2 separate regions of the Homo sapiens genome follow, and region 1 is linked to region 2. The links come from fine-mapping of genetic effects on plasma protein levels. Region 2 holds a variant in brackets. A gene starts in the other region. All regions are shown on their reverse strands.

The links. A credible set is the group of variants that fine-mapping cannot tell apart. PIP is the posterior inclusion probability: the model's chance that the variant is causal. Protein levels are from antibody-based Olink assays in UK Biobank. Linkage for the fine-mapping came from a reference panel and not from the study's own genotypes, which makes the PIPs less certain.
Region 1: it holds the start of SIGLEC7, and the variant in region 2 is the best candidate, but not a certain one, in a credible set for the plasma level of the SIGLEC7 protein (UK Biobank, PIP 0.67).

Annotation. Positions count from the first base shown.
Region 1 is chr19:51,140,481-51,145,000 of GRCh38, reverse strand. It overlaps SIGLEC7 (sialic acid binding Ig like lectin 7), which reads right to left and starts at 2,700. Exons shown (of 7, transcript NM_014385.4): 1 at 2,199-2,700; 2 at 317-595; 3 at 42-89. The coding sequence starts at 2,631. LOC124904749 (a long non-coding RNA gene) reads left to right here and starts at 4,491. Exons shown (of 3, transcript XR_007067310.1): 1 at 4,491-4,520.
Region 2 is chr2:134,204,625-134,208,624 of GRCh38, reverse strand. It overlaps a transcript of MGAT5 not described here. Among named protein-coding and RNA genes, the nearest start is that of MGAT5, 47 kb to the left of the region's middle. RefSeq lists a silencer at 1,713-2,007. The variant G/T (reference allele first, on the strand shown) is at 2,334.

The sequences.
Region 1 (4,520 bases), not on the chromosome of region 2:
GGCCCTGCTCCCCCAGCCCCAGGGAGGGGGCTCCATCCTACCTGTGCCTTCTCCTTGGAAGACAGTCACAGTCAAGTTCTGAGGAGGGTCTGGGACAGAAAGACATGGAGACCTGCATCACTGTGAGGGCTGGGGACACTGGCCCTGTCTCCCCAGGAGCTGCATAAATGGGGAAGGCGGAGCCAGCGTCCTCCTGATCCCACAACCAGCCCAGATTCTGGGACCCAGCACCCAGTGTCGAGCCCTGACCCCATCCTCTGCCCTCAGGGACGTCCCCCCCTCATCAGGGACCAGGGCGTCCTGGCTCAGCACTCACAGGACACATTGAGTTGGATGGTCCTGTTCGTGGTCACGCCGGCCCCAGGCAAGGTCACCTGACAGGTGAGGCTGGTGCCGTGGTGCTGGGGCTGTGGGATGAGGGTGAGCACTGAGGAGCGGGTGGTGGAGGGGTGCAGGGGGGACACAGAGGTCCCCATCCAGGAGATCATAGGGGGCGTCCCCTGCTCACAGGCCCAGGGCACAGAGCAGGTCAGATTCTGGAAGCAGCCAGACTCCAGGGTACCGGGGATAAGGATGTTGGGCCTGTGGGTCAAGGCTGGTGAAGAGAGGGGGACTCAGGATCAGGACAGAGGATCCATGGTACAGCCCTGGGGGAAGCTCAGGCTCTGGTTCAGCTTCTGCCCTGAGCCCAACTCGCTTCACCCTCAGCCCTCTCCCAGGGCAGGGGCCCCATCCCAGGCTTTCGCTGCCACCCCCATGACCTTTCCCTGTGGTGTCTCCTGGAGCCTGTGCCTTATCTGTCACATTCACAGAGAGCTGCTTCGTTTTGTAATTCCATCTTATCTGTCCTCTCTCCACCTGGAAGTAGTAGTTCCTCAAATCCCCCTTCCTGGCATCTCTGATGCTCAGGGAGCAGTTGTTGGTCTTCAGGTCCCCAAGGAGGTGGAATCGGCCCCGTGTCTCCTGCACTTTTCCATTTGGGATGTTTGTGGCCACTGGATTATTCCATTGTATATTGATCCCTTTCTTAAACCAGCATCCATGGACAGGGCTAGAGTCAGTTCAGTTGTAATAGGGTTAAAGGACACTGCAGGGCACAGAGACGCACTAGCCCTCCTGCACCATCACCAACTCCAGCACCTCCAGCCTGTATCTTGACAGTGGGGCCTGGGACGCTGTGGGGAAATGAGGCTCAGCCCAGCCCCGACTGTCCCTCTCTTCATTTGCCCACAAGAGAGGCAGCAGCATCTCTGAGACAGAGGGTTCCTGGGCTCCTTGTGTGAGCAGAGAAGTGGGAGGGAGAGGAGGGGCAGGGCTGTGGGACCCACAGGGGGCTGGAGAGGGGCTGGAGAGGAGCTGGAGACCTCAACCCAGCACGAAAGAGAAACTACAAACCCACATGCTATAGGAACTGGTTCCCTCTGCACAGAGTGAAGGAAACCCTGAAGCTCAGAGACCCTAGAGACCCACCCAGGGAGGAGAAGAGACCGTGTCCCACCTCCTACCTCCGGGCTTCCCTGGAGCACCAGGGCCTGCACCAGACACGTAGGTCCTGCCCTCCCGGCCTCTGGACCATCGTGGAGGTCCCTCCTGTCTTTTGAGCATCTAAATGTGGATCTCCGAGGACCTCAGGGCATGAGAGATGGAGGGGCCGTGTGCTGAGTCTCCCTGTCCAGGCTCAGGTGCCTCTGCTGCCCTTGGTTTGCGCCAGGAAGTGCTTCCTCCCTGGCCTGGCCTGAGAGAGTCACGGGGTTGTGTAGACCTAAGGCTCTCAACTGGGGAGGACTTAACCCCCCAGGACGTTTAACAATGTGTGGAGATAATTGTTATTGTCTCACTGCATGGGTGGAGTGGGTGCTTCTGGCATCTGGTGGGGAGAGGCCTGGGATGGTGCTAAACCCCGGCCATGCCTAGGACAGGCCCCAAAACAAGGAGTCATAAGGCCCCACATGCCACAATGCCAGCGTCAGAGGCAGGATGAGGATGTCAGGCCTGTGGGTCAGGGCTGGTGAGGGGAGGGGCCTGCAGGATCAGGAGGGGCATCCAAGGTGCGGTCCTGGGGAAGCTCAGGCTCTGGTCCAGCTCCTCTCCTGAGTCCATCACCCCCGGCCCCCTCCCAGGACATGTGTCCCGTCTCAGCCGTGCCCTAAAGCCCTCATCACATTTGCCTTTGGCCTCTCTTGGAGCCCGTGCCTTACCTGTCACGTTCACAGAGAGCTGGTCATATTTATAATTCCATTTTATATTTCCTTTCTCCATACGAAAGAAGTATCTCCCCGCATCACTCATTCTGGCATCTCTGATGCTCAGGGTGCAATTTTTGGTCTGTGGGTCCCCAAGGAGGTGGAATCGGTCCCGAGTTTCCTCCTGCACTGCCCAAGCTGGGTTGTTTGTGGCCACTGGAGCCTTCCAGCTTATATCATTCCCTGCCCGGAACCAGTAGCCATGAACTGGGTCAGAGTCAGTCTGGCTGTCCACTGGGTAGGAGAAGGAGCAGCGCACATGGACACACATGCCCTCTTGCACGGTCACGGAACTCTGCATCGTCAGCGAGTAATCCTTCCGGTTACTCTTCTGTCCTTCCACCCTCTCCCTCCCCCAGAGCAGGGGCAGCAGCAGCAGCAGCAGCATATCTGGGGTTGGAGGTGCCAGGGCCGCGAGGGAACGTCTGTTCCTCAGGGTTCTTCTCTCAGGAACTGCGGGCTCAAGACTTAGAAGAGGCCCTACAGGAAGTCGGTGGTGAGGTCAAAACAGTGACCTCCTTAGAAGAAGAACTTCACACACAGACACTGTCAGGGCTGGGTCAGCCCTGGGAGATCCACCGTCCACCACCCGACATTCACTCCTGGGTCCCTGAGGCCAGAGCGGGAGACAGACTCACCCAGATTCCCACCCCATGCAGGGCCCACCCCACCTCCTGCCTCCCTCTCAATGCCTTTCCCTTTAGGTGATATTTTCTGCAGGGTGAAAATAACTCCCATCTGCCCAGACCCCTGAGTCACAGGCTGTGGATGTCTGCGTAGCTCAGAAGTGGGACTCGGGGCCATGAGAGACAGGGGTGCAGGTGGGGTGAACAGGCAGCCTCTCATCCCTCCCTCAGCAGCCACGAGGTGGGCACCCCCTTTCTGCACAATGAGGTCAACACAGCAGAGCCGGACACTGTCCCCAAGGAGTCACTGTGTGGTGGGGAGACACTGAGTCTCCTGACGTTTGAGCTCCCCATGACAGGAGCTTCAGTGGGGGGCACAGGCAGGGTGGGGTCACTCTCCCCTAGGTCGGGGGTTCAGTCTCAGGAGGACCGAGCAGACGGACATGGGGCTGTGAAGGTGAGGATTGCGCCTGTTGATACACGCCAAGGACACGGAGGGGAGCCCAGCCTGCAGGAGGCCGGGGAAGCTGAGGCTGTGATTGTTGTATTGTGGGGCTTGGTAGACAGGAAAGTCATAAGGGAAAGGATCAATATGAAAAGAGCAGACACTATTCCCATCCTCACAGCTCTCTGAGCACAAGGACATTTCCCTTCACCACTGCTATCTCATGAGGCCTGGTTAGTGCAGAGTGTGAGGGGTCTGCTGGCCCTGGGGCTTTGCTCCTGCAGGAACTGCTCCTAGGGGTTCAGGTGAACAGGAGACGTGGAGCAAAGACACCAGCCCCGGGGCGTCCACCCTCAGTGATGGGCGCGATTTTCTGAGAGAAGAAACACGCACCTGACTTCAACAGAAGATTATTTTAAACTGTGTGACTGGGCTGGGAGGAAGTGGGAAAAATCCTGCAAGCTGCAGCCCCCTTAGATCCAGGCCAGCTTTTCTTGAAACAGTTTTTTTTGAGCGGGGAGAAACACAAGACATGTACATAAAAGTGTCCCCTAAAAACCAACTCAGTGATTCACACAAAATAAGCACCCTTGAAGAACTAGAACACAAAAGAACTGTCAAGTCTGTCCCTTGAAATGAAGAAAGAGATTTTATTAATTCATTCACCCTTACATTCCCCTTTCCTATTGGCCATGCCCCCGCTCCCTCCTGAAGGAGCCCCTAGCCTCACTTTAATGATAATAGTCTTCCTGCTGTTCTATGTAGTTTTATCATCGGCACATGCTGCCTTGAAAATTCTAACTTCACGTAGGTTTTCCTGAAGATGTTGTATACATAGAAAATCCCAGTCTGTTTTCTTCCATACAACTGCATTGATCTGCTCAGCCCACACTGTCCCCTAATTGTCCATAACCTAGAGATCATTTGGCTGTAACGATTGAGAGAGGAAGATGCTGGGTTTGGGCGTCCGAAGCCACTCCCCGCCCTCACCTCCAATCCCTGCATTTGCAGCTAGTATCTCATCCTGCAGACCAATCTGCCTCCTGGGCGCCTCCTCCTTGCCCAGCCACTCTCTCCCCATAAGGATATTTGCAGTATCTCAGTGGGCAGAAGTGTTACCGGATGGTGCCATGCAGTTCCAGGCTCTTGGTGTCTTAAACAAAGAATTGGATGAGACACACACAGACAGCAAAGCAAGAAGCAGCA
Region 2 (4,000 bases):
CTATGTTATTTATATTATAACAACTATAGTAAATAAATGCATGTTTTTGCCTGCTGGGAATAAAGGCATATCCTATCCTCATTTCTCACATATTCTACTTAAAATGTTCCTAAGTAGCTTACCAGCTACTCTCTTATCTGCTGAAACTAACCAAATTCTGGCTGATGGTCAAAGACTATTTCCCTTGGGCACCAAGCTTCCTAAACAGTCAGGATGGTCTAATAAGGTTTTTTCTGAGTGTGGTACATTTACACCGTAGCATACATACTAATAGTTAAGTATTTGTTGCAACATGCATACGCACATCAAATTCATAAGCTGCTATATGCTGTCAATTAGAATGAGACCAAATTAAAATAAATGAGTTGATGCAGGATAAACTGAAGAAAATATGTTAAGTAACAAGTATAGGTGGTAACGTGAATATGGTGGAAACTAAGTCCAAAGTTTGGAAAATACTGGTCTGCTTAAAAAAAAAAAAAGTTCGGCCAAGAGTCTGAAAACTCTGATTCTATGTGCTGTCTTAATGTGTCCTTGGGGATCCTTCACTTATCATCCCTAGGCAGGCCTCACTACAATGATAGCAACAAAGCTGATAGGGTTAGGACAGTGTGACAAATGTGAAAACTTTTGGAAGTAGAACGCAAAGTCTTTTCACCTTCCAATCAGGTGTGACCACTGGCCAGCTGAGAAGCATGGACCTTTAAGTTATGACACACAAACCAACAAGGTATCAGAGTCAATGCTAATCCCTCTCCTTAAAACCTCCCTGAGTTGTGGAAAGTCATCTTGCCAAGCCTCTGGGCAAAGACCTCCTGAGGTTGGCTTGGTGGCAGGCAGGGGGCGGTAGATGGCAAGAGCACAAATGATACATATCACTGCAACCTGGTGTCTGATCTCAATAACACCTCTGCACAAGACCCCTGGTAAGGCAGGGCTTTCCAAGGTCAGGATTTGCCACTAAGCTCTTAAAATCTCTTCTGATCCTAGCAGAAGTAAACGATCAGTATCTCTGGTAAGCAACTGTATTTTTCTTTTTTTTTTTTTTAACCTTTCAGTGTCATTGTGAGGTTTGCCACATGCCTTGAGAAATAAAGCCCAATCTGAATGCTCAAACATGAAAGTCTGGCTGGCTCAGGCAATTGGAAGAAGATACCCATGCATGGTAACCGCTGAATGACAAGTTAGGTTTCCTGGAGAGAAAGACCTAACTATTCACCTTATATACTTAAATAATTGCCTCCTTTTTAAGGCAAAATAACAGCTCCTAAAGATGTCTCTGTCATAGCCCCAGAATCTGAGTATGTTACACCTTACATGGCAAAGGGCAATTAAGGATGCAGATGGAGTTAAGGTAGCTAATCAGCTGACCTTAAGATAATTATCAAGGTGGGTCTAATGCAATCACAGCGTCCTTAAATGCGGAAGAGGGAAGCAGAAGAATCACTATCTAAAAAGTGTCAAAGACTGGCTTGAAGACATAAGAAGCCATGAGTGAAGGAATGTGGACAGACTCTAGAAGCTGGAAGAGTCAAGAAAACAGATTCTAAGAGCCTCCTGAAAGGAACACAGTCCTGCTGACACTGGATTAGCCCAGTGAGACTCTGTATTGGTTCCCTATTGCTGCTATAACAAATTGTCATTAATAATTACCTATACTTAGTGGCTTAAAACAACAGAAAACTCTTCTCTCACAGTTCCAGACTCCAGATGTCTGAAATTGGTATCACTGGGTAGAAGCGAAGGGGTAGGCAGGACAGGGCCGTGCTCCCTCCAGAGGCTCTAGGGACAGTCGGTTCCTTGCCTCTTCCAGCTTCTGGTGGCTGCATGTATTTTTTGGCTTGTGGCCACAGCATGCTAATTCCTACTTCTGTGGTCACACTGCCTTCTCTTCTGAGTAATCCTCCTCTGCATCTCTGTGAGGAGAACATTTGAGGTGGCATTTAGGGCCCATCTTGACAATCCACGATAATTGCCCTATCTCAAGGTGCTTAATCACATCTGCAAAGACCCTTATTCCACATAAGGCTACATCCACGTTTCAGGAGTTACAGCCTAACACCTGGAGGGTGTTAGCCTACTACAGAGCCGTTTCAGATTTCTTACCTCCAGAACCATAAAATAAACATGTTCTTTTAAGCCACTAAGTGTAATAATTTGTTACAGCAGCAATAGGCAATTAATACAGCTCCTGTCTCTCAAATGTGTGCTACAGATCAGGACAAGGTCTGGGCATGAGGACAGAGCTAGCTCACCCCTACTATTCACATCAGCATCCTGGCGATCCTTTGTATCCAGAGATGTTGCTCCTTCTCCCATTAGCATACTTGACA[G/T]GATAGAATGCTAAGACTCAGCAGGAAGTGGCCATTAGAAGCTTCAGAAATCACTTCTCTTTCCTCTCGCTGATCACAGGTTTCTTAAGTAAACTGTATAGTAATTCAAAGCAAAGCTTAGGGGAAAAAAGGAACTGACATTCATTTCAGAAAATTCCTCTCAATAATGAGTACACTCCATCCACAAATGTCAAAGAGCTTTGCTCACAAAGCCAATAATCCCTATCACAAATATAAGGCAATGTAAACATTTAAGAACCATATTCCTCAATTAGGAACAGCCTTTTTGGGTAGCTTTCCTAGCATTCCAGTGGCAGAACATACACTTTTAAGCAGTTATTAATCACTATTCTATCTCTTGGCATGCTGTAATGCTGGTTTTCTAACATCTCTGCAGGGATTTCTATTTATAGAACTGCTCCTTCTCATTGATCTGCCTTCAGGACACTGAAGCAATTCCCCAGCTGACTTCTCTCCCAGAACTCACCTTGTTGGGACACCCCTGGGCTCTGTCCTCAAATCTCTTCTCTATCCATATTCTCTCCCTCAGCAAGTGTACCCTGTCCCACGACTGCAAATGCCAACTGTAAGTGGAGGCTCTCAAATTCATGTATCTATCCTTGACCCCTCAACTGAACAAGGTCCAGATCCAAACATCCATGTGCCACTCATGAGCTCCACTTCAGTGTTTAGTATGTATCCCCAGCTTAGCAGGCCCGAAAGAGAGCCGCTGCTTTCTGACAGACGCACAAAGCAGCTCAGCAAACAGCATCTCCCACTCCGGCTGCTCCAGCAAGACCCTTAAGCCCTCATGTGTACGTTCTCTTCACTCCTTCCCACCCCTCATATTTAATCCATCAGTATCTACCAGCTCTGCCTCCAAAATGTACCCCAAATCTATTTTCACTATCTCCACTATTTCAATCTCATTCCAAGCTACCCTCACCTCCCACCCACATTATAGCAATAGGCTCCTAGCTCGTCTTCCTGCCTGCTCTAGCCCCACCCTCCGCAGGGCTAAAAGCCATCTTTCTGAAGTGTAAATGTCAGAGGATGTCACTCACAGGTATAAAATTATCAGGGGCTTCTGGCTACAAGCAAACTCCAAACTGGACCATTACCTACATGGTCTGGCCACTGCCTACCCCTTGACCTCTCTCCTACTCTCTTTCTTACTCACATGCCATGCACACAACTCTGGCCTTCTGTCCTCTCCTGAACATGCCGAAGCTTGTTCCTGACCCATGGCCGTTGCACTTGCTGCTCCTTCTGCTGTAAACACTCTTCCTGCAGGTCTATGTATTATCATCCTTTCCTTCCCTGAAGCCTCACCTGCAACTTTTCAGTTATCACCCTAGCCTACCAAAAGCAACCACTCACCACCCTTTTTTCCTGCCTGTCTTTGTCTTTTCAGAACACTTTGGAAGACCTGAAGCAGTCTTAATTGTTTGTCGATGGAGTGTGACTCCCCTCCAGCAAACTATATGCTCACTGAGGGCAGGGCTTTTCCCATAGTATCCCCAGAGAGATACCTGTTCACAAGCTGACTGAATGGTTTTACAATTGAAGAGCAATATCAAGTCCTCTTAAAAAGGTACAGTGTTAGTCAATCTCCTTGGTTTTAAGGAATAGTGATTTCCTGGGTTCCTACAGGAAAGAGACCAAAA